4 linked regions of the Homo sapiens genome follow. The protein of the gene in region 3 interacts with the protein of the main gene of each other region in a pairwise test. Each region holds a gene or a part of one and is shown on either strand. Other genes may lie near its edges. The genes, in order: HIGD1C, TVP23B, SYT16 and MTFR1.

The links.
Region 1: the proteins of SYT16 (region 3) and HIGD1C interact in binary tests that used the Homo sapiens proteins (3 or more experiments, as listed by UniProt).
Region 2: the proteins of SYT16 (region 3) and TVP23B interact in binary tests that used the Homo sapiens proteins (3 or more experiments, as listed by UniProt).
Region 4: the proteins of SYT16 (region 3) and MTFR1 interact in binary tests that used the Homo sapiens proteins (3 or more experiments, as listed by UniProt).

The regions. Positions count from the first base shown.
Region 1 is NC_000012.12:50,948,063-50,955,577, reverse strand, and holds the start of HIGD1C (HIG1 domain family member 1C), read right to left. Parts: upstream 3,035-7,515; 5' UTR 2,879-3,034; coding exon of another isoform or gene 2,863-2,878; exon of another isoform or gene 2,374-2,862; coding exon of another isoform or gene 2,319-2,373; exon of another isoform or gene 1,770-2,318; intron 1,588-1,769; coding exon of another isoform or gene 1,580-1,587; coding exon 1,486-1,579; intron 1-1,485.
Region 2 is NC_000017.11:18,776,350-18,784,215, reverse strand, and holds the start of TVP23B (Golgi apparatus membrane protein TVP23 homolog B), read right to left. Parts: upstream 3,034-7,866; 5' UTR 2,923-3,033; coding exon 2,911-2,922; intron 2,903-2,910; exon of another isoform or gene 1,667-2,902; intron 1-1,666. Other genes in the region: FBXW10 (F-box/WD repeat-containing protein 10), read right to left, coding at 4,918-5,741.
Region 3 is NC_000014.9:62,109,683-62,113,077, reverse strand, and holds the end of SYT16 (synaptotagmin-16), read right to left. Parts: 3' UTR 528-3,395; downstream 1-527. UniProt on the Homo sapiens protein: May be involved in the trafficking and exocytosis of secretory vesicles in non-neuronal tissues. Is Ca(2+)-independent.
Region 4 is NC_000008.11:65,689,734-65,696,733, forward strand, and holds part of MTFR1 (mitochondrial fission regulator 1 isoform 1 precursor), read left to right. Parts: intron 1-3,910; coding exon 3,911-4,026; intron 4,027-7,000. UniProt on the Homo sapiens protein: May play a role in mitochondrial aerobic respiration. May also regulate mitochondrial organization and fission.

The sequences.
Region 1 (7,515 bases), on a different chromosome or scaffold from region 3:
CTATTTAGAAGTTTTTATGGAATTAATATTTTTGCAAACTTATGTCAGTCTGATTTAAGTAAACTATTTTAATAGTTTCCAGACAAAATGAACACAAGGAAACAGGCATGGCTGCAGTATACATCCATGGAGAAGAAAGAGAAAGCTCAGACTTCAAAACATAATATTGGTGCTTAGGTTTTGTGGGGTTTTTTAAAGTCCACATACACATAATACTTGTTGAAAATGTAAACATACTAAATATGTGTGGGGAAAGGATAAAGAGGCTAAGGGTCCAGATTATTAGGTGATCTAATTATAGTATCTCTCTTTTTTATTTTTTGAGATGGAGTCTCGCTCTGCACCCAACCTCTACCTCCCGGGTTCAAGTGATTCTGGTGCCTCAGCCTCCTGAGTAGCTGGGATTACAGGTGTGTGCCACAATGCCCAGCCAACTTTTTGTATTTTTAGTAGAGATGGGGTTTCACCCTATTGGCCAGGCTGGTCTTGAATTCCTGACCTCAAGTGATCCACCTGCCTCGGCCTCTCAAAGTGCTGGGATTACAGGAGTGAGCCACTGTGCCCGGCCTAATTATAGTATCACTTCTTTAGTCCAGAATTTATTTTGCCATCAAACTCAACACCTGGAGCACACCAAGAAGCCAGCACAGAGGGCCACTGAGCAGCCAAAATGACCACTCCAAAGTTCATGCTCACAAGTGTTCAGATAGATCCAGGCTTTTACTCAGAGCTTTCCTCTGAATTGACCCACAGTTCTTTCAAGCTTGGTTATCTAGCTTCTGGTGCTACAGAGCATTAAAAACATTAGATGCAGAAGTTTTTGGTTTTTTGTTTATTTGTTTGTTTGTTTTTGAGACAGGGTCTCACTATGTCACCCAGGCTGAAGTGCAGTGGTGTGATCTTGGCTCACCGCAACCTGCACCTCCTGAGCTCAAGCAATCCTCCCACCTCGGCCTCCCAAAGCGCTGGGATTACAGGCATGAGCCACCGTGCCCGGCCTAGAAGCAGAAGTTTTTAATGTGCCCAATAGTAAGATAGAAACAGAAAAATCTATAAACAGAAGATGTAAGAACTTAAAGTTTAGATTACTTACAAGACAAAGAGACATATGCATCTCAATAGTCCCTAATAGGCTTTAAATATAATAAACTGATGCTGCTGTTGATGGTCCTGAGTTATGACTGAAATGTTAATATTCATTCAATCTATTCCATTTGACTGGCTAGGAACTAATAATTTTAGGTAGACTTCTAATGAAATGGATAAAATAGAATAAAATTTGATGCCTCAAATAACAGCTAACATTTACTGGGGGCTTACCATGTATTAGGAACTATTCTGAAAGTTCAACACATGCTTAGAGGAGGTTAGCTTCAATTATCTGAAAAAATTCAATTATAAGAAACATTTCAATCCGCAAAGGCACTGGGTAAGGCATCATTGTGTTATTACAGTTTTCTGCATCCAGTCAAGGCTTGTACTTACCTATAGGGACAAAGGGGGAGTCTCTAGATTTCCTGATTAGTCGGGATAATTGGCCTTCATCCTCATCTGCTGACCACTGGTTATCTGAAGACATTTTTTTCTCTAGTAACAATAGGATATAAATGTGGTTGCCGTGAATCATTAAAAATAATTTGTTTTTCCTCTCCCATCATACTCTTGATTATGTGTTTTTTTGTTTTCATTTGTTTGATAAGCCTATCTGCTCAACTGAAACAATTGTCTTTCCTTCACACTTTTCACTACCGAATTTTTTCATTTTGCAGGGGAAGGGGATAAGAAAAAAATACATAGAGGAAATGATAATCAGATTTCATGAATACAGAGTAAAAACACAGATCATAATGCTGTTATTCAGTCTCCTTTCCACTGCTCAGCATTTGAGATCACTGGGAACCTCAGGACTTCTTCCACAAGCACTGTATTTGAAGAACACATTTTCTTTTTAAAGTATCATTTTAAAGAAGTATGGCAGTGCCAACATAGGCAAAAATACTTCCAGATTTACAGGTATTGGGAGAATGATCACTTCAACTCTGCAGAATGTGCAGGGCATTATAAAGTCATTCAGATATTTACCAAGCACCTACTGTGTGCCAGTTGCTATGCTAGACAATGGATTCCTTGTCTAGCCTGGCTTGTCTACATAGGATGAATGAAGAAACTTGCAAAAGCAACTATAATCACAACAGATTTAGCAGCGCCTGAGTCTGTTCCCTGTGCAGCTTATTGTGTTCACCCCAGAATTCAAATACAGCGGCTTCATCCTATGAATGAGACTTCATCAGAAAACTTAAGCGTAAGAAGCACAATACCTGTGGCACACCCCGCCACCTGCTGTCTGTCTCCTGTTGTTCCTTCAGCAAGAGGCTGTAGATCAGAACAGGTGTTTGTTGTAAGGCCAGGACACGATGTGCAATTTCCAACTAATTGATAATGGGAAAGCCCAGAAACACGCCCCAGGGGACTGGGGGAGTGGTCGGCTGGTATTGGCCAAGATTTCCAGCACCCTGCTAGAAACTCACCAGTAGCAGCCTGGGCCACAAACTAGGCTTTTGAAGCCAACATTAAGAAAAACATGAAGGCTTTGGAAGAAGATGCATTTGCTTAAGTCTGCCTTCACAAGGGAGCTCCTGACTTCCCTCTGTGACTGTTGAGTCTTAGTACCTGACTCCTGGGCCCAAAATTGAGGGGAAAGAGGGCACAGGGTCACAACACTGGGCTTGGAGGGGAAGGGGAGAAGATAGCCATCAGAGGCCAGGATTCTTGCCATCCTTCGGAAACACGCCCTAGCCAGAGGAGGTGCGCTCCCTGCAGTTGGAATCTCCGGCTGAGGCGATGAGAGCCCGCCGGGCTCACCTGGCGGTAAGGCCATCGCAGGTGCGCCTCCTGCAAAGCCTCGAGCTGCACACGCGCCCAGGGGAAAGACGTGACGTTGCTGCACCTGTGGCTAGTCCCTGCGCCTGTGTGTGAGACCTGAGTGGGGCTGTGGAGACCCGAGAGGCTGTGGCTCTTGAGGTGGGTCGGTGGTGGACGTGGCCTTTGCTTCTGTTCTGACCTTGTAGCCTTGGGGCCCCTTGAGACCTTGGAGAACACCTTGCTCACCGCCTCCCTCCGACTGCAGCCATGTGGACCTAGAGATGAGGGCAGAGGATCAGGTAGCGTTCATGGTTTTTCCCTTGTAACTTAATGTTTAAATAATTTCAGACTTATAGAAAAGTCCCCAGAATAGTACAAAGAACTGTGTGTCTGGTACCCGCATTTTCCTTTATTAACATGTTTCTTTCTTTAAAAAATATTTTTGGCGAACCACCTGACAGTAGCAGACTTATGCCTTTTCTTCCATATACTTTTGTATGCATTTGGGGCATTCTTTTATTATATAACCATAGTACAGTGTTCAAAATCAGAAACTTAACATTGATATAATTCTGTTTTTCAATCTAAAGATTTTATTCATATTCACCAGTTGTCCCAATTATGTCCTTAATAGCAAAAAAAAAAAAAAAAAAAAATTTCTGGTCTAGCATCCAATTAGGATCATATATTGCATTTAGTTGTCCTGTTTCTTTAGTCTCCTTTAGTCTGAAACACCTTCCTAATCATCTTTGTCTGTCTTGACCTTGATTTTTTTTTCTTTTTTTTTTTTTTTGAGATGGAGTTTCGCTCTTGTCACCCTGGCTGGAGTGTGATGGCGCAATCTTGGCTCACTGCAACCTCTGTCTCCTTGGTTCAAGCAATTCTCCTGCCTCAGCCTCCCGAGTAGCTAGGACTATAGAAGCGCCACACCACGCCCGGCTAATTTTTTTGTATTTTTAGTAGAGATTTTGTTTCACAATGTTGGTCGGGCTGGTCTCAAACCCCTGATCTCAGGTGATCCACCCACCTTGGCCTCCCAAAAGTGCTGAAATTACAGGTGTGAGCCACCGCGCCCAGCCGACCTTGATGTTTTGCCAGTTATTTTGTAGGATGCCTCTCAATCTAATCCTGTGTTCCCGTCCCCTCCCCCAACTCATGTTTTCTCACTAGATTGAGGTCATACATTTTGGGCAGAATATGACAAAAATGATGTTGTGCTCTTCTTAGTGTGAAATATCAGGAGACACAGAAAGTTGAATTGCCTGGTGGTAGTTAACTTTGATCCAGTGTGGTGCTGACAAATGTTTAACAACTCAACTGGCTCTGGAGGGGGAGATATTGCCCTGTTCTGTGGCATTTGCCATTGCCCCATTCTGTGTTGTAAATATTCCCACCATGCCCAATTTCTAAATAGAGTCTGTCATCACGGAACACAAAGTTGGGAAATGTCCCTTTCCTGGGTTGGTAGGAATGGGCTCTAGCACACCACTGCTTTCATCATGTGGATTAACGTGGTGTCTGCCTGGTTCTCCACTGTGGTTACTTTTTTTTCTCCCTTTTAATTAATAAGTAGTTTCTGAACAGGTACTTTAATATTATACAAATATCCTGTTATTTGTCAGACTTTTACCCATTAATTTCAGTGTCTGTTGATGATCCTTGCTTGAATCCATTAATTTTAGTTTGCTAAATGGTGGTTTTTCTAAATATATCACCTTAAAAAAAAACTTATGGCCGGGCGCGGTGGCTCATGCCTGTAATCCCAGCACTTTGGGAAGCCAAGCAAGGCAGGTGGATCACCTGAAGTCAAGAGTTCAAGACCAGCCGGGCTAACATGGTGAAACCTCATCTCTACTAAAAATACAAAAAAAATTAGCTGGGCGTGGTGGCAGGCGCCTGTAGTCCCAGCTACTCGGGAGGCTGAGGCAGGAGAATGGCATGAATCTGGGAGGCGGAGGTTGCACTGAGCTGAGATGGCACCACTGCACTCCAGCCTGGGTGACAGAATGAGACTCCATCTCAAAAAAAAAAAAAAAAAAAAAAAATTAGCTGGGCATGATGGTGCGTGCCTGTAATCCCAGCTACTTGGGGAGGCTGAGGCAGGAGAATTGCTTGAACTCAGGAGGTGGAGGTTGCAACGAGCCAAGATTGCGCCACTGCACTCAGTCTGGGTGACAGAGGGAAATTCCATCTCAAAAACAAACAACCATTTATTAGTAGGCATTCTAATGAGGAATAGCTTTTCTTTCTTCTCTATTTAATCTTTTATCAGTTTGGACTCTTGCATTCCTATTTTATTCAGTGGCTTATAATCCATCACTATGATTATTTTTATTTTATTTTATTTTAAAATAACTGGTTTTTGCTTTATTCTGTAGTTTACATGGGCCAACCTCAAACTCCATGCTTGATTTTTCTCTTCTGCCTTTGTTATTCATTCAATATCTGTATCAGCAGAGACTGTTTCTCCCAGCAGCACATGTAGTTTGATCCTCATCTAGGTTAAGTAGGCCCTTGAAGACGCTGGCCCATCAGCACTGGTACCTGGACCCTCCCATTTGACTGCACCCATGTCTGTTTACACTGGGGCTGTGCCTTGGTCCTGTCACCCGTGAGGTGTCCTTAAGGCTGGAATGCCAAATAGGCTCCAGGTGATGGGCTAACTCTGAGTAAATACAAGAGGCTGCTTGGAGCCCAGAGATGAGGGTTATGAGGCAGACTGTGTCTGGGTTCCATTACAAAGAAACCGTGATTGATTATAAATACCTGCCCTGGCAATACACATTAGAAGTGTCTGGAAGTGGGGTTTTGGGGGAATGAGCTCAGAAAGGGACAAGGTGTATGTTCCATTCCTGCCTTGGGTGGTGGTTCTGCTACCTAGGCTATGTTGTCTCACTGCTCACGCCTTAATCCCAGCACTTTGGGAGGCTAAGGCAGGCCAATCACTTGAGGCCAGGAGTTTGAGACCAGCCTGATCAACATGGTGAAACCCTGTCTCTACTAAAAATACAAAGATTAGCCAGGTGAGGTGGCACATGCCTGTAATCGCAGCTACTGAGGAGGCTGAGGCAGGAGAATAGCTTGAACCTGGGAGACGAAGGTTGCAGTGAGCTGAGGTCACTCCACTGCATTCCAGCCTGGACGACAGAGTGAGACTCCATCTCAAAAAAAAAAAAAAAAAAAAAAAAAGAAGCATTCAAAGAATAATGAGACATGTCAATAGACAACAGGAGCCAGCTTAAAGGGGTTTCCAATAGCGAAATCTGGGACAATTTGATCATTAGAATAACCAGGGCAGTCTGCCTACCAAACTGCGGCGGGTGCCGTGACAGCCTCTGAGCAGGTCCAGAAGGGACCCCTTTAGCTGAAAGGCATTGCAGAGCTCAGTGTGATCAAGCAGAAGAAGAAAAAGAAGGACAAAGGCAAGGCAAATTTCCTGAAAGCCATGGCAATGAGCAAAAAGAACAAGGGGGAGAAGCGACACAGCCTGGACAAGTGGACCCCAGCCCAGATGGCCTTAGAAAGATGCAAGAGAAGTGTCAAATGGAAAGGATCCTGAAGAAAGCATCCGAAATCTACAAGCAGAGAGTGGAGGACTTCACATTCTAGGGATCTTTTCTTCATTCTGTTTTATAGCTGCATAGTCCTCCACTGTGTGGGTATAGCATAGTTTAAATGCTCTCCTAGATGTGAGTGAGCATGTAGGCTGGAGACATTACAGCAAACAATGCTGCAAGGAATAACCTCGTGCATATGTGTTGTCTCCTCCTCCTCCTCCTCCTCCCCTCCCCCTCCCCCCCTCCCCCCCTCCCCCCTCCCCCTCCCCCTCCCCTCCCCCTCCCCTCCCCCCTCCTCCTCGCTCTGTCGCCAGGCTGGAGTGCAGTGGTGCAATCTCAGCTCACTGCAACCTCCATCTCCTGGGTTCCAGCGATTCTCCTGCCTCAGCCTCCCAAGTAGCTGGAAGGAACTACAGGCACATGCCACCATGCCCAGATAATTTTTGTATTTTTAGTAGAGACAGGGTTTCACCACGTTGGTCAGGATGGTCTCAATCTCTTGACCTCATGATCCACCCTCCTCGGCCTCCCAAAGTGCTGGGATTACAGGCATGAGTCACTGCACCCGGCGGTGTTTTTATATTATTGAAGGTATATTTTCAGGGTAAATTCCCAGAAGTGGAATTGCTGGGTCAAAGGAAAATAAAGTTTAGTTTTTTAGATATTGCCAGATTTCCCTACAAGGTTTTAATATATTGGCATTCCCACCAGCAATCTACAGAAGTGTCTCTTTCTCCACAGCCTGCCCAACAGAATGTGTTGTCAGGCTTTAGAAGTTTTCACCAATCTGATGTGTAAGAAATGGTACCTTACAGCAGTTTTGATGAGCATTTCTTGTATTATGAGTGAAATTGAACATATTTTCATGTGTATAATGGTCATTTTGCATATTCAATAACTTATTTGTTAGGTTTCATAATTTTAAAGTTGTGAAGAGATTGGGGGAGGATTAGAAGATATGCTTAGAGTCATCAAAGGATTCTGAGTCAAGTGATCATGTAGGGAAGGTTCCAGAAATAGAAATTATAATTTTAGCATGGGGAGATGTGTCAGAGACAAATGTGAGCTATTCTATAAAATGCAGCCTAATTTTCTT
Region 2 (7,866 bases), on a different chromosome or scaffold from region 3:
AAAAAGAATGGAGTGACCAGTGAAAGAGCATGTGGTGTCAAGTTTGTTTTGTTTGTTTGTTTGTTTGTTTTGAGACGGAGTCTGGCTCTGTCGCCCAGGCTGGAGTGCAGTGGCGCGATCTCGGCTCACTGCAAGCTCCGCCTCCCAGGTTTATGCCATTCTCCTGCCTCAGCTTCCCGAGTAGCTGGGACTACAGGTGCCCGCCACCACCCCCGGCTAATTTGTTGTTTTTTAGTACAGACGGGGTTTCACCGTGTTAGCCAGGATGGTCTCGATCTCCTGACCTCGTGATCCACCCGCTTCGGCCTCCCAAAGTGCTGGGATTACAGGCGTGAGCCACCGCGCCCGGCCAAGTTTTCATTTTTTAAGGTAAGAGAAATTAAAGCACGTTTATATGTTGATGTGAGCAAACGTTTAAAAGGATTAAAAAACTGATGATACAAGAAAGAGAATTACTAGAACAATGCCTTCCAGTAGGCAAGAGGAGATGGAAACCAGGACACAGTAGACAGGAAGACCTAAGAATGGAGCACTAACAGTCCAATTATCATAAAAGAATATGAGACCCTGAGTAAACATGCAACTAGGCAGCTAGTGTGAAAATTGTCTTCCGACGGCTTCCATTTTCAGTGAAACAAGAAGCAACGTTACCAGCTGAGAGAGGATAAGAGAAGAAACGTTGAAGATTTGAGTTTTAATAGTTGCCTAAGGCGAGAGGGTGAAGGGGCTATGGAAATGTAGAATGACCGCCTGGCAGCACTAAGGGCTCGACTGAGGTTCACGTCACAAATTTATCAAGTGGGAACCGTCGGCCGGGCCTGGCGGCTCACGCCTGTAATCCTAGCACTTTGGAAGGCTGAGGCGGGTGGATCACCTGAGGTCAGGAGCTCAAGACCAGCCTGGTTAATATGGTGAAACCCCATCTCTACTAAAAATACAAAAATTAGCCGGGCGTGGTGGCAGGCGCCTGTAATCCCAGCTACTCTGGAGGGTGAGGCAGAAGAATCGCTTGAAGCCGGGAGGCAGAGGTTGCAGTGAGCCGAGATCACACCATTGTACTCCAGCCTGGGCAACAAGAGTGAAACTCCGTCTCATAAATGAATGAATGAATCAATCAATCAATCAATAAATAAATAAATAGTGGGAACAGTCAACATTGTTGTGTTTCTCCAGCCTCATCCGGCCTGGGCGCAGGTTCAAATGTCAGAAGCATGTGAACCTGAACAACTCCATCTTCAATAGGAGCTGGGTAAAATGAGGCTGAAACCTACTGGGCTGCATTCCCAGACAGGGCATTCTAAATCACAGGATGAGATGTGAGGTCGGCACAAAATACAGGTCATAAAGACCTTGCTGAAAAAACAGGTTGCAATAAAGGAGCCAGCCAAAACCCACCAAGACCAAGATGGCCACGAGAGTGACCACTGGTCGTCCTCACTACTAGACTCCCATCAGCGCCATGCCAGTTTACAAATGCCATGGCAACATCAGGAAGTTACTCTCTATGATCTAAAAGGGGAGGAATGAATAATCCACCCCTTGTTAACCATACCACTAAGAAATACCCATAAAAATGGGCCACCAGCAGCCCTCCAGGTTGCTCTATGGAGTAGCCACTCCTTTACTTTCTTAATAAACTTGCTTTCACTTTGCACTGTGGACTCACCCTGAATTCCTTCTTGCCTGATCCAAGACTTTTTTTGTTTTGTTTGAGACGGAGTCTCCCTCTGTAGCCAGGCTGGATGGAGTGCAGTGGCCCGCGGCTCACTGCAACCTCAGCCTCCCCAGTTCAAGCGATTCTCCTGCCTCAGCCTCCCGAGTAGCTGGGACTACAGGCGTGCACCATCACGCCCAACTAATTTTTGTATTTTTAGTAGAGACAGGGTTTCACCAAGTTGGCCAGGATGGTCTCGATCTCTTGACCTCATGATCCACCCACCTCGTCCTCCCAAAGTGCTGGGATTACAGGCCTGAGTCACCACGCCCGGCCAAGGACCCTCTTTTCGGGTCTGGATCGGGACACCTTTCCTGTAATACAGCTGAATTTAACCATTATTAGATTTTCTCCACTCAAGGCATCTCCTCATAAGCAGTCTTTCCTGACCATAAATCTTAGTTGTCCTATCCTCAGACACTTGTTATTTCATCACCCTGCCTTTGCAATTATCTGAAAATATCTTTGGTTATACAATTTATCGTGTCTCCCCACCCAACCCCCATCTCCTAGAACCCACTTCCCTAACCCAAAAATACGGGGCAAGAAACCTGTCTGTACTGGTCACAACCCTATCCCTGGGCCTACAACCGTGTCTGAGTCATAGTAATCCCTCAACAAATTTTGTGTGAACCGAAAGAAAAAAACACTTAAGACAATCTAAGTGACCATAAACAGTAGTTTTTTCTAAAAATATTATTAATCTTACGAGTCTCTGGTTGCCAACATGTGGACTACAATTAACTCTAAGAGCACAAAGGAGAGAATCACCAACAACATTAGTTTGGAAACAGCAATTTGAAAGCGAGGCTCTGGCGGTGTCGCCGATTCCTACAAAATAGCATCGCACCCCTGGGTGTCAGGAAGCTAAGAGGCCCGCAGGCCGCTCCTCCTCAACTCCACCCCGGCAATAAGGGTTGAGGAAAGAGAGACCCCCACTCGCGCTGGTTAACAATGGGCGTCCCCACAGCCGCAAGAAGTACTTGCTCTGCGCCGCACGGGTCACGCCGCCCCCAGCGGCCTCAGAACCCCCAGCAGCCCTCCTCAGACAACTACCCACAGCCCTCCACTCCCGGCCGCCCCGCTCCTCCTCGAGTTCGAGTAGCGGGCGCGGGGGACGCGGGCTCCAGTCCCACGGAACCTGCAGAGCCAGTCCCAGGAGCCGCCACCCTCCCAGCGAGCCCTCAGCCCCTCACCTGCTGCAACATGGCGGCCCTACGCCAGCCCTACTTCCGGGAGCCACGTCAGCGCAGCAGCGTACGGGTCCGGGTCGGAACTGAGGCGACCCGTCACCAAGGGCCAGCAGGGACCACTGTAAGAGCCTCAGTCCGGCCTCACTTCCGCTTTGAGGGAGCAAATCCAGGGGCGGGGCGAGCGGGGGCGGGGCGAGCGGCCCGGACACGGCGGAGGCGGAGCCTGGAGCAGGAGCGAAAGGGAAAGGTATTGGGGCCACAGTGGGCTCTAAGTGGAAAGCTTCATGGTCTGTTTTACGGAAGTATTTGCTGTCCACCCAATGCAAATTCTAAAGTCGTTCCCCCAGTGTCGCTGCCCCGAATGCAGGGGGGCGGGGTTTTATTGTATAATATAATTTTCTTTAAATATTTTACAAAGACTTACTCCTGTACAGTATTACTTTTGTACTTTAAATTGTAGAAGCAACTTTTTAAAATATGTTCTTGCAGAGAAGTAAAACGTTAAGAAAAACAAGGCAGGAGGACTCTAGAGTAACTAATGGACGGTATTATTATGGGAGGTATAAACTTAGACGCCAGGAGTTGAGACCTTGCGCCCTGGAGCTTAGGCGCCTGGGAACTCTATTGCCAATCATATCACCAACCTTTATGTACTTCTTTCATCAGTTGTAAAGTGGGGGTGATAATGGTTTCCTTACAGTGTAAGTATCTAGTAAATGGGAGACGTTATACTTACTACAGTTTTAAGTCCAGCCGCTCATGCTGTGATCTTGCCTGAACAAAGGATGTGAAATTAAGGGGCGTTAAGTCATCTTTGAAGCGGTGATGATGACAATATCCTATCTGTCTGGCCGAGTCAGACTGCTGTTGGCATAGTGGTATTTGCACGTGTCCTTAATTGAAGGGATTCTATTAAAATCACAAATTTTACGTGGCTGATTGCCAGTGCCATTTAAAACCTGATATTCTAATAATGAAAGGGGGAAAACACACACACGCGTTTCTAAAGGCAAGACATTTCGGCAGCACAATTGCATTCGTGCCCTTGGAGATGAAAAGCTAACAAATTTGGGGCCTGTACGTCCAGCCTGCCCATGGCAGGTTTTCAGTGGTCCACTCAGTGCTGTGGAGTTTTGTGTTGTTTTTCGTAGTTTTTGGTTTTTTAAGACATTGTGTTTGAATTCATTATCGTCTTTTAATTTTTAATAGCTAATTTTTAAAGCTAATTTTGTATTTTTAGTAGAAACGAGGTTTCACCACGATGGTCAGGCTGGTATCAAACTCCTGATCTCAGGTGAGCCACCCGCCTCAGTCTCCCAAAGTGCTGGGACTACAGGCGTGAGCCACCGCACCTGGTCAAGGCTTGAACTTTCTAATGGGCCATAGCTCTTGTAGTGGGCTGCACTCTTCTAAATTACCTGGTCCCTGCACCATAGTCCAAAGGTTTAAGCAGAAACCTCAATGCACTTGATGTTACTGGCCCTCTTTGTACAGAGGATAAATATGCTAATTCTCTTCCTTAGGAGTTAGCCCTGAGAAGGAAAAGCTCAATGTTGTCAAATGCAACAGGTCCACCCCACTGAGGGCTTCCCCTTTTAAATTCTTAATGGGTTTTATCAGGCTTCTGTGCAAAAATACCAGAAAACACCAATGCATGACCCTGATATAATCCCATAACTTCATTTGCCAGAAGAACTAATAGCACTAAATTGGTAGTGATGAATGGTATCTAATTTCCAGTGATCATCTCCCCATCCCCCATCAACGAAACTGGGCTTTCCTAATGCTCACTAAATTGTTTTCAGTGGGACTACAGATGCTAATCTCGCCCAACCTCCTTCTGTTTTCTTATTTTGATGATATCAAATATTTGGCTCAGAGGAAGATAACTGGGAGTTCCCACATTAATTACCAGGAAGAAACAGTCAAAAAAAAAAAAAAAAAGGCCAAATAGCAACATCCGCTTGGCTTTCTGTTTATTGTAAAACATTGTAATTTCCCAAGGCTGGTTTAGATAAATACATTTTGTCCAAGTTCAGGGGCCGCTGTTTTCCCTTGCTTCGTGAAATTATCAATAGGCAGGCCTTTGATCTTCCTGATCCATGCAGCTTTGCTGACTTTTCCTGGATCAACCACTCCAGTGGACTCCCTGGCCTGATATTCCTTCATCTTGGCTTCCTGGTGCTCCTTCTCCTCCTTCACGGTCAACAGCACGAACTCAGTGTTCACTCTAAAAGGATCAAGGGCTGTATAGATGCGAGGCCGTTCTTTCTTAAGAGACAGGGTGGCTGTGCCCACTTGTGGAGCTAGCATGCGGTTTGGTTTAATGACCTGCATACTGGTCAGGGGACCCGTACTGCACACAGCCCTTTCAATTGAACTGGTCACTTGGTCTCCACCCTTTAAGCTGCCAGAGAACCTGGAGCGGATAATCATGGGCTGGGGTATGGTGGACTGGACTCTAGGACTGTGCAAAGAGATCTTCAAGTTGGGCTGCAGTTTCTGGATTTCAAGGGGAATACTGGTTCGTTTCACATCTATAGGAGGATTGCTCAATCTCAACCGATCAACTGCACGTTGGATTGATTTTCCTTTGAAATTCAAGACCTTCCTTGGGTATGAAATTGAAGGTCCCCAGACATCAGTAATTTCTGTTTGGGGCCTACAGGGATAGGCAAATTCCCCGGAATTATGGGCGTGCTGCAGGGCGCTAACAGTCAGGAGGAATTGGTCAGGTGACATAGGGATTTTCCAAGACTTTTTCTTTGGGTGACTGGGCAGTTTTCCAGGAGTTTCCAATTGTCCTTGTTTTTGTGCTTTCTCCACATCATCTGCTTTTTCAAAAAAAAGAAAATTTTAAAAAATCGGCGTTCTATGAAAAATATTAAGTACGTATGCATTAAGTACTTGGGCATTCAAACTTCGAAGCACATTGAGGTCTTTGTTGCCCAACAGGTATGCCATCATACAGGCAGGCACCCTGAGTGGTATTAGAAATGCTGATACTAGAAACAATTTAATAAAACAAATTTTTTTGTTTGTTTGTTTTTGTTTTTGAGACGGAGTCTCGCTCTGTCACCCAGGCTGGAGTGCAGTGGCATGATCTCTGCTCACTGCAAGCTCTGCCTTCCGGGTTCACGCCGTTCTCCTGCCTCAGCCTCCCAAGTAGCTGAGACTACAGGCGTCCGCCACCATGCCTGGCTAATTTTTTGTATTTTTTTTAGTAGAGACAGGGTTTCACCGTGTTAGCCAGGATGGCCTCGATCTCCTGACCTCGTGATCCACCCGCCTCGGCCTCCCAAAGTGCTGGGATTACAGGCATGAGCCACCGCAGCCGGCCAATAAAACAAGTTTTTAATAAAATGCTAGTATTGAGTAAAGAGTATATTAGCCTCTAAGTGAGCATATTTTGAATGCAACAGATGTGATTTCAATGCTACACATATTTTTGAAAATGTGAAGTTGAGGCCGGGCGCGGTGGCTCACGCCTGTAATCCCCACACTTTGGGAGACCCAGGAGGGTGGATCACGAGGTCAGGAGATCCAGACCATCCTGGCTAACACGGTGAAACCCCGTCTCTACTAAAAATACAAAAAATTAGCCCGGCATGGCGGCGGGCGCCTGTAGTCCCAGCTACTCGGGAGGCTGAGGCAGGAGAATGGCATGAACCCAGGAGGCAGAGCTTGCAGTAAGCCAAGATCGCGCCACTGCACTCCAGCCTGGGCGACAGAGCAAGACTCAGTCTCAAAAAAAAAAAAAGAAAATGTGAAGTTGGGAATGACCTTCACATCTCATTTATGATTCACACAAAGCAGATCTTATAAATTTATAGTAGCATAACTATTTTTCAACAGTAATTATGTTGCAAAATTTGATCTTTACCTTATTAATCAAATTTGACTCCAAGTAATCTTGAATGTTGCCCAAAATAAAACCTGTCTTCAGGCTGGGTGCGGTGGCTCATGCCTGTAATCCCAGCACTTTGGGAGGCCTAGGTGGGTAGATCACCTGAGGTCGGGAGTTCGAGACCAGCCTGACCAACATGGAGAAAACCCGTCTGTACTAAAAATACAAAAAAATTAGCCGGGCGTGGTGGCAGGCGCCTGTAATCCTAGCTACTGAGGAGGCTGAGGCAGGAGAATCGCTTGAACTCAGGAGGCAGAGGTTGCGGTGAGCCGAGATCACGCCACTGCACTCCAGCCTGGGCAACAGAGTGAGACTCCATCTCAAAAAAAAAAAAAAAAACTGAGTGAAATCAAGATGTCAAAATCTTCCCTATTCTCCTTGCAAACTCAAAAAGAGAATTTTTCTCCTTTTATAAAAAAAGGAATTGTGATGAGCTCATTGTTTATTAATTTGTCTTTTTTCAAATGATAATGTATTGTGGATCTCTTTCCAAGTTAGTATATACAGATCCTCATCATACAATTTTTAGCTGTATATAATATTCCATACAATAGATTTTTTTATTACTTAGCCATTGCCCATTGATGGACATTTAGTTTGTTAATGGTCAACCTAGAAGAAAATGCGGACCCCATTTTTACTTATACAAGCAACTACAAAATGCCAGCTAACACCCAGAGTTGGCACAAATGCAGTGGGGTCTCTCATATATTGCAAGTAGGAGTGTAAATTGATACAGTATTTTTCAGGACAACCTTGGCAATATCTTTCTAGTTTTTGAATGCACTTATCCTTTGGCTTAGCAATTTCACTCGTAGGACTTTACCCTTCAGGTATACCTGTACAGGTACACTGACATAGGTATATACAAGGATGCCCATTGTTAGCGCAGCCCTCATAAAATAATTGTTTTCCCGTCAACTTCAAACCAGTCTCTGCACAGAGTTTGTTCCAAAGAAACACTACTATACTAGCCAAAAATATTTGAAAGACATTTTAAATTTTTACCAATGTCCTTAAAAAATAACAAAGGGACATCCCAGTCATGAGTC
Region 3 (3,395 bases):
GAGTGCTATGTAGGTGTCCGAATATAATAACTCAGCTCCCTCTACTTCTAGCTTGTTGCATCTGAGCCTTGTTAACTTTTGAGAACTGGGTATTCATAGAGGGGAAAGTGTTCTGGACAAGAGCTTCTCTAATGAGGAATTACATACACTTTTGTACATGAACACCTACACTTTGCAGTTTGCCTTCTCAGAATCCCCTTTAGATGCAATTTAATTAATTCAGGTGATCCTTACATTTATATAGCTCCTTACCTGATGTTCTTCAAGTCAGCATTTGAACTGGTATATGTTGATTTGTATATGTGTTCACCATAAAAGCCTACAGCACCCTGAAACCAAATAAACTGTATGGATCATACATGTAATGCTTATAGTTCTAAAATATATGTCTGCAGTTGGTATGGTTTTGAAGTTAATGGTTTTTGTATATACTAAAATAAGCAGTATCATTCAGGCCCATAAAATTTGCATGTTGATGCTGCAAAACTGTATCTTTTTTTAACATAAAAAATTTTCACACATGTACATATAAGCCATCTGCTAAAACTTTATTGATAAAACCAGTAGCAGCAGTTTTACAAAATTGGAATGATTTTCAGTTTTCATGAACTATCATGAATTCAGTTGCAGCAGACATTTTATACAAACTGGGGCTAATGCTTCTTCTATGTTTCTGTTTTAAACAAAAAGCAATTAGAATTTATCCTCATGCATTTAAATATCTAATACAGAAATAGTGTTTAGACTGCATAAAATATGCTTTCCAACATCACTGTGAGACTGAACATCTGCCTTAAGTATTATTTGCACAAGAAAAACAGTATAATTCTTCTAATCATGAATTTATTCCTTGTCACAGGTAAAGTTTTACATTTTCTAACATTTTCAGAGGGCATTTCTAACAAAAAGTATTGACATTCAATATTTCACTGATTGGTCTTGTTTAAACACAATACATAATAGTAAGATAGTAATACATTAAAACCATCATTATGAAATCTTAAAGACTACAAAAGGTAGAAAGGTATTCCAGTTTTTAACAATTAAAAAATTTCCACACCTTTTCCTATACACAAATTATCCACTGATAGAAGTAAATTTAGAAATAGGATGGGTCATTACATTCTACAGCTGTTTGTTCTGGTAACAGCTAGTGATACATTCATGCTTCTTTAATAAGAGACACCATGAATCAATAAGTCATACTATGAGAAACACAAGGACACCCACATGGAATGTTCTGAAGATTGTCAGAAGTTTCTAAAGTAAGGGTTCAATTCTTTTGAGGAGAAATTTTTTCTCTCTCTCTCTTGAACCTCTGGACCACATACGAATTCTCTACTGGAAAACTAGAGGAGGAACTATAATAGCATCCAGGTCTGAAAATGCCTATGAAACACTGGGAGAGGATTGGGGTGGCTTCCACCTTACAACTAACAAAACTGGCCTTGAACAATCAATTTGCCAAGAAATTCTTCTAGTGACTTAGAAATCTAGAGGAAGACCAGATTTTATACTAAACCATGTTATACTTAACTATCCACAAAAGTGAAATTTATAAAATTACTGACTGCCTTTGACAACCACCAAAACTCAGCACAGTCTAGCACATATAAATAATGTATTAAAGTAAGCATAGAATAGAAAAAGTACATGTTTACAATGTTAATACATCTGCAGCATCCAGCTGTGAGTAGAATAGTAATATAAAGCACATTCCCTGCTAAGAACAGTGTACTCCATGTAGGGTAAAATCTCCTGAAAATCTCCTAAAATAGTTACATATGTTCAAAATGAATGAATCATTCACATTTACATTTTTTTCATGAAAGTTCTTCAAGGACACCCATCAAAAGTTGAGATATAAAGGAAAACCAATAAAATATTTTAGAACAACAGAGCTGTACACAGTATGCATATGGTGAAACATAAATGTGTGAATGTGAACAACTGTTTCAGATGCCATATGAAGACCAAAAATATTGAGAAAGTCAGATTTATCTTGCACTGTGAACACAAATAAAATATTGCTATGAAATCTTGGATGTACCTTAAAAATGATTTTTTAAATCTTTACTTTTTCTGTGGGATAGTAAAAGGGCATTTATGAAGAAAATGATTACATGAGTGAGGAAAGTCACTTGGGAGGGGAGAGATGGACAAGTTTGATTCTTCAAAAGAAAAATAATAAAGGAGATTGAAGGACCTTTTTTGGCAGGGGAAGAATTTTTCTAAGGACTGTATTCAAATCCACTTTGTAGGGGAGGAAAAGCTATTCCATTTAATACTTTGCCTGTACTCAAAGTTAGGTTGTTCTAAAGAAAGGTCTGCATTCAACTCAAAGGTTGGCGAACCTGCTGAAAACATGGATTTGCAGTTTGTTACATGATCAGTGTTTGAACAAAAAAAAATTAGAACCTAATATTTTATTTCTAGCTCCTCAGAGACAGAACAGCTAAAGACCAACTATAACTTGTATTCAGACAGATTACTGACATTCTATGAATATGGCCCACTGATTGGCAGAGCTCTAAAAGTGTCAATTACTTTGATATATTGACATAAAGAGTTGATACGACCTTAATATAAAAATCACAAACTATCCTGTAGTCTTCAAAAACATTGCAAGTCTTCAAAAATTCTGCAAAACGTCTTTCCATCTATCACCTTGTCATATGTATGGCCCTGTTATATAGTGGGGTCTCAAAGTGTTCATTATATTAATGAAGGAATGAATGAATCCTGTTCCTACAACCACCTGGTAAAAATAGGTAAAATGAGTATTACTATTCCCATCTGATAGATGCAACAATGAAGGCTTGAAAAAATTGTGACTTGATATTCATTTTAGAGCTCATTAGTGGAAGATTTGATATCAGAACACAGGCCTCATCAACTTTAATCCAATATTCTTTATACAACTATACCTTCATCTCTGCAATAATGCCAGGTTCTGCAAGTTGCTGTAGCTACAAAGCAAAGGGCAGTCAGAAGACATATAAATAATCTCAAAATGTTTCTCAGATACAAATCATTGGCCAGGCCTCCCCCTTCACCCAGAGTGACTATCAGTGTTTTCTTTCCAACACCCATCTACTTGTTCATGCAACATATACATTAGCATGGGTTATCTTTTCATTCAGAATTCAGAGCTGCTGTGTGAGCCAGATGCTTACATACCATTTTTAATTGATTTGTACAATTAACTATGACGGGGCACAATCACAAAGCTTCCTTTCTCTTGGCAGGAGTGGTAAATGTAAAGTCATATAAACTAGCGACAGAAGGTGATTTTCTATCATGAATCAGTAATAACATAATTAACACTTTTTATCGACAGGTATTTAACTCATTGCTCAACAAAAGACACTACAGAGTCACTAAATTTGGGATCA
Region 4 (7,000 bases), on a different chromosome or scaffold from region 3:
TGGAAATTGTCCTTTGCATCCCATGCCTGTGTCACTCAATGAATGCTTCCCTCACCAACACCTGAAACGGCCTTTTATAAAGAAGATTTTCTTCTAGTTTTATTTTGTCTTTTGAATGAGTTTGACTTAAATGCCAAAACTATTTTGTTTTGTGGGACAGGATTTCAAGTACAAATGACATACATCTTATCAGTTTTGGAATTGGTTCTTGAGAGCATCATTAACATTTTCATCTTATTGAGCACATATTATGGACTTGGTATCATTTGCCTAATTAAGGCTTAAGTAAGATCCAAATTAAGTCCGTGGAATAGTTTGTTGTATCTTGTTGTTTTGTTTTTTTAAAGTTTGTGCAAAAGCTGGCATTTTATGTTTAACATATTAATTTTATGGAGGCATTATTTAATTTTATAGATGTAAAATTGAGAAATGTGTTTAATCCTTAATTACTATTTATGATATCCTGAAAATGAGTTAACTTATATTTCTTTGAATATGTATTCTTAGAAAAGTAGTACTGGCTGGGCGTGGTGGTGCATACCTATAATCCCAGCACTTTGGGAGGCTGAGGCAGGTGGAACCCCCGAGCCCAGGAATTTGAGACCAGCCTGGGCAACATGGCGATACCCCCCATCTCTACCAAAAATACAAAAAATGAGCCAGGTGTCGTGGTGTGTGCCAGTAATTCTGGAGGCTTACGCAGGTGAATTGCTTGAACTTGGGAGGCGGGAGGTTGCAGTGAGCCGAGATGGTACCACTGCACTCCAACCTGAGTGACAGAGTGAGACCTGGTCTCAACAACAACAAAAAAGAAAAGTAGTACTTTGTTTTTTTGTTTTTCTTTTTTTCTTCCCTCCTCCCCACACTTTGTTTCCTTTTATAGATGTTTTAGAAGAAAACAGCTATTTTTGTAACTTCTGTAGGAAAGTAAGAAGTCTTTGTCTTAAATATGCCTAACTTTCTACCAACTAGTCATTATATTGGAACAGAATTTTTATTTCTAAACAAAGGGTCATGATCAGATTGATCATCTCATGAAATAGCACCTTAGGAAGGCACCATTCAGATTTTAGTCTTAGGATTTGTCTAACACTTATACAAAACAGCCCATTAAATACCATCTCTGCTAGGAGCCTCACAGGGCTTGGGGAACATTCCTGCTGAAGGATAGCCACATAACCCATTTAGAATCTCCTTATTACAGTGTTATGGGAATATCAGGATACCATTCTGTTTTCAGTAATGGGTAGGAACAGAACATTACCTGATTTCTCAACTCTTGAGATCAAATATGATACCCAGTTGTGTTATTTAAGTTGTATGAGATACCCATTTGCTGAATATCTGTTTGGATAAGTTTCTGAACTACAAAGGGAAGTACAAAAATCTTCCCTTTGATCTTATACCTTGAGAATTTACTTACTGAAGTTCATGCTTTTTTCCTCATCTGACTACAAATTACTTCCACTACATGCAAATTGGTATTTTGAAAGCCTTTTTATCATAATTTCATTATTAGGTTTATTTGTTTTTGTTTTTGTGGAAGGCAAGATTTTAAAATTTCTATTTTTTGAGACAGAGTCTCACTCTGTTGCCCGGGCTGGAGTGTGGTGGTGCGATCATGCCTCACTGCAGCCTCTGCCTCCTGGGTTCAAATGATTCTCCCACCTCAGCCTCCCAAGTAGCTGTGACTACAGGTGCATGCCACCATGCCTAGCTAATTATTTTGTATTTTTAGTAGAGACAGGTGTTTTGCCATGTTGCCCAGGCTCGTCTCAAGCTCCTGGGGCCTCAAGCCATCCGCCATCTTGTCCTCCCAAAGTGCCAGGATTACAGGCGTGAGCCACCGCACCTGGCTGAATTTAAGGTGCTTTAGATACTCGATGTTCTTAGTACTTTATTGTTAACATGTTTTTGGATTTTGGTTTTTTTTTGTGACCGAGTCTTGCTCTGTCGCCCAGGCTGGATTGCAGTAGCGCAATCTCAGCTCACTGCAACCTCTACCTCCCATGTTGAAGTGATTCTCATGCCTCAGCCACCCTAGTGGCTCGGGTTACAGGCGCCTGCCACCACGCCCAGCCCTTAAAATGTTATTTTTAATGCTACTTTATTAAGTTGATTAGATAATTATACCAGGAGAGTACACATACCAACAACTGATATGTTTAAAGTTTTATTCATAATATTACATTAAAGATATTTTAAACTTTCAACAATGTTAGTATTATGTGTCACATGATATATTTTGTGTTTAAGGAAGAGGCATTATTTAAGTATATCTTCCAAAAGTTTGACTTGGCAATGATGGCATTGAGGAGGTTTGAACAATGCATGAGTCCCAAGGGTAACCTTTTTGATAAACATATTAATGACTGAATCTCTTTGGCCTTTTCATTTTTTCCTTAATTAAAAAGTGTGGATTGATTATTTTTCTTTTTTATTTAAACCTCACTCATACTTTTAGTAAGTATTAATCTGATAACTTTATTTAAAAATTATTATTCGTTGACTTTTTGACTCAGGCATTATTATATGTATAACAAAATCTAAATTTAACTCAGTTATCTTTTTTGTTTTTCAAGATAAATTTCAAGATATCCTGCTTGTCTTTTCTTTTTCTTTTTGAGACTGTCTCACCCTGTCACCCAGGCTGGAGTGCAGTGGTGCAATCTTGGCTCACTGCAACTGCCGCCTCCCGGGTTCAAGTAATCCTCCCACCTCAGCCTCCTGAGTAGCTAGGATTACAGGTGTGTGCTACCACGCCTGGCTAATTTTTTTGTATTTTCAGTAGAGATGGGGTTTCACCATGTTGGCCAAGCTGGTTTCGAACTCCTGACCTCAAGTGATCCGCCTGCCTTGGCCTCCCAAAGTACTGGGACTGTAGGCAGGAACCACTGCACCTGGCTGTCTTTTTTTTTTTGTATTTATTTCAAAATATTCTGTTTGCATCCATGTTAAGTTTAGGTAGAGAATTCTGTTCTGCTGTTTGTTCTTTTGTTCTTTAATGCTTTTACTTAAAATTTAGGGGATTTAAGGAGTTTTAAAAAACATTTTCAACATTATAATATATACATATATAAAAACATTGAACAAAACAGCTATATAATAGCCATTTAAAAATATTCCTGGATTTAGCTCAAGTTGGTCTTTTGCTTGTTCTTTTTTTTTTTTTTTACCCCCGAGACAGAGTCTTGCTCTGTCACCCAGGCTGGAGTATAGTGGCACGATCTCGGCTCACCGCAACCTCCACTTCCCGGTTTGCTTGTTCTTATACCCCCCGCCTACACATACCTTTTAAAATCTCTTTAGAAAAAAGTGGTTTCTCATGCTTAGATTCAAAAATTTTTCTTAATTTTCTAGGATAGTTTTTTAAAAAATCAACTTATAGGCTGGGCACAGTGGCTCACGTCTGTAATCCCAGCACTTTGGGAGGCTGAGGCAGGCCGATCACAAGGTCAGGCGTTCGAGACCCGCCTGGTCAACATGGTGAAACCTCATCTCTACTAAAAACACAAAAATTAGCTGGGCATGGTGGCGTGTGCCTGTAGTCCCAGCTACTCAGGAGGCTGAGGCAGAAGAATCGCTTGAACCCGGGAGGCGGAGGTTGCAGTGAGCCAAAGATAGAGCCACTGCACTCCAGCCTGGGCGACAGAGCTAGACTTTGTCTCAAAAAAAAAAAAATCAACTTATAAAATGAAAACTGAATAAAGTTATAGTTCTGAGATTGTCATATACTATTAGGCAACAATATGATTATGACTATTAATCATGGAGACCTTCAGTGGAAGAGTTAGAAACCACTCATGTGTTTTTAACACCAGAGCTGACGATTTTCCTTTAGGTGAGTAAAAAAAATTTAACATTTTGGTGCCATCTTTGGTGAAGAACTTTCCCTATTTATAACTTACAGATTAACAGCCATGCAACAGAATGGAGTCCCAGCCACCCAGGAGAGGATGCAGTGGCGTCTTTTGCTGATGTTGGATGGGTAGCCAAAGAAGAAGGAGAGTGTTCAGCAAGACTAAGGTTAGTTTGGAAGGCTATCAGAACTGAGATGCAATATCTATTTTTTTAAAGAATGATATTATTTGCAGTACTTATTTTTAATAGCCTAATTTTATCTCTAGTAATGCACCCTCTTCTTTTTCTTGAACAGTCTTCTTTTCTGTTTATTTTCCTTTTTTTCTGAGATTGGGTCTTGTTCTGTTTTTCAGGCTGGAGTGCAGTGGTGTGATCTTGCTTCACTGCAGCCTTGACCTCCCAGGCTCATGTGATTCTCCCACCTCAGCCTCCCAAGTAGCTGGGATCACAGGCATGCACCACCAACCCTGGCTAATTCTTTTTTTTTTTTTTTTTTTTTAGATAGAGTCTTGTTCTGTCACCCACGCTCCAGTGCAGTGGCGTGATCTCGGCTCATTGCAACCTCCACCTCACAGGTTCAAGCGATTCTCCTGCCTCAGCTTCCTGAGTAGCTGGGGCTACAGGCACGCACCACCACACCCAGCTAATTTTTGTATTTTTAGTAGAGATGGGGTTTCGCCATGTTAGCCAGGCTGGTCTTGATCTCCTGACCTCAGATGATCCACCCGCCTTGCCCTCCTAAAGTGCTGGGATTACAGACGTGAGCCACCACGCCCAGCCTATTTTTTACTTTTTTTGTAGAGATGAGTTTTCACCATGTTGCCTAGGCTAGTCTGTTCGTTTTCAAGACTTGACTAGTATTTATAAAGTTTTTAGAGACATATAATTATGTCCTAAGTCCTCATTGACAGAATTCTTTGTCCTTCAGCAGTTTACATTCTAATGTAAGAGACCAGAAACAATGATCATTAATTTTTAGATAAGTACAGTAATTATAATGGTCTCATTGGGGCAAAGGGATCAATCTGGATCATAGTAGAGAATTTGTGTAATTGGAGAATGTTTCCTAAAAATTTTGAGTCAAAAGGAGATTAAGAAGGAAATCAGTTGATACTGTAAAGTCTACAAAGTAATTACAGATGGTCACTGCAGGATGAGAGATGTTCAGCAAGACTTCTCAGGAGGAAATGCTAGAGCTCCATCATGAGGGCTGAGTGGGAGCCAAGTAAATGGAAGGCTGGTATTCCTGGAAGAGTAAAGAACTTGTTTAAAGGTAAAACCAGGAGACATTGTGGCATGTTTGGGAACTGCCAGATGGCTCAATGAGACTAGAGAGCAGAAAAGAAGGATAAGCTGTGGGAGATGAGGACGAGAAGTAGGTAGAGGTTTGAAGGTCTTACACGTGACTCTAAGAAACATAGAAAAGTTCACGTTTGTGGAAAGCAATATAGAACCTGAAAGCAGTGTGGAACCATGGAAGAAATTTGAGCACTAGTAAAATCAACATGTAAACAGTATGAAGAATAGAAAAGAGCCAGACCAAGAAATAGACCAACTAGGAGATGATCAGAATTTAACTGAATTAAGAAACTGGCAGAAGAGGTTCAAAGCCAAGTGAGATTCATAAGAATTAAAATGACATAGAAACTTATTAGATATGGAGATTAACGAAGGAAGAGCCTACGTAGTCAGAGTCTAGTTATCCTAAATTCTCAGGTTTCCATGTAGGATAATTATAAGGATGGTGAAACAATTTTTTTTTTTGTTTTGTTTTTGAGATGGAGCCTCACTTGGTTGCCCGAGTGAGGCTGGAGTGCAGTGGTGCGATCTGGGCTCACTGCAACCCCCACCTCCCGGGTTCTATCAATTCTCCTGCCTCAGCCTTCCGAGTAGCTGGGATTCCAGGTGGCTGCCATGATGCCCAGCTGATTTTTGTATTTTTAGTAGAGACGGGGTTTCACCACGTTGGCCAGGCTGGTCTTGAACTCCTGACCCCAGGTGATCCACCTGCCTTGACTTCTCAGAGTGCTGGGATTATAGGCGTGAGCCACCGCACCTAGCTATAATGTATAGGAATATAGGAAAACAGATTGTTTTGGCTGGGGGTAATAAGAGAGGGTAGTCTAGTCTGGAATATATTATGTTTGAGTTTTCTGTGAGATATTCACCTTGATCTAGAAACAGTTTATGTGAATGGATATTGGTAAGGAAGGCCTATACTCTATAACATTTAGATAGAACGGCTGAATATGAGAGTGCCCAAGAAGCATGTATAGAACGTGAAGAGCATTTGTACCCTGAGTGAAGCCAGCATTTTGAAGTTAAAGGAAAGAAAAAGCCTCCTCCCCCATCACCCTCCCCAACCCCAACCCATCACCCAAAGAGCTAAGCGGCAGGAGAAGACCTGGTAGAGGGTATTGTTATGGAAGCAGAGGAGGTAGAGTTTTTATTGAAGAGGAGTAGTGATCAGTGTCAAATACTTAGAGGCTGGGTAAATAGAAAAACTAGCAAGTTTCAATTTTGTTTTTCAGTTGGAAGATTATCATTGACTTCAGCAAGAGTAATTTCATTTGAGTAGTATTAGCTGGATAAAATAAGAATAAAATAAGAGCAAACAAGGAATTTGATTTGAATGACAAATAGAAATAAGGACATAGCAGTAGATAAACACAGGGATTGCAGGATTAGCAGGTAAAGAGCCTTTCTTTTTTAAGATGTTTATTTTATTTAAACTTTTTATTTTGAGATAATTGTAGATTCTTCACATGCATATTTATAAGAAACAATACAGAGAAATTCCCCATGCTTTTCACTCAGTCTCCTTCAATGGTAACATCCTGCAAAACTATAGTACAATATCACAGCAGGGTATTGATGTTGATAAGTCAAGATGCAGGACATTTCCATGCTACAGAGATCCTCCAGTTGCCCTGTTATAGCCACACATACTTCTCTTCCATCCCCAACCTCAACTCCTTCTTAATGGCTAGCAACTACTAATCTGTTCATTTTAACTATTTTATCATTTAAAGAATGTTACATACATTGAATCATGTAATATGTAACTTTTTTTTTTATTTTTTTGAGACAGAGTCTCACTCTGTCACCCAGGCTGGAGTGCGGGGATGCAGTCTTGGCT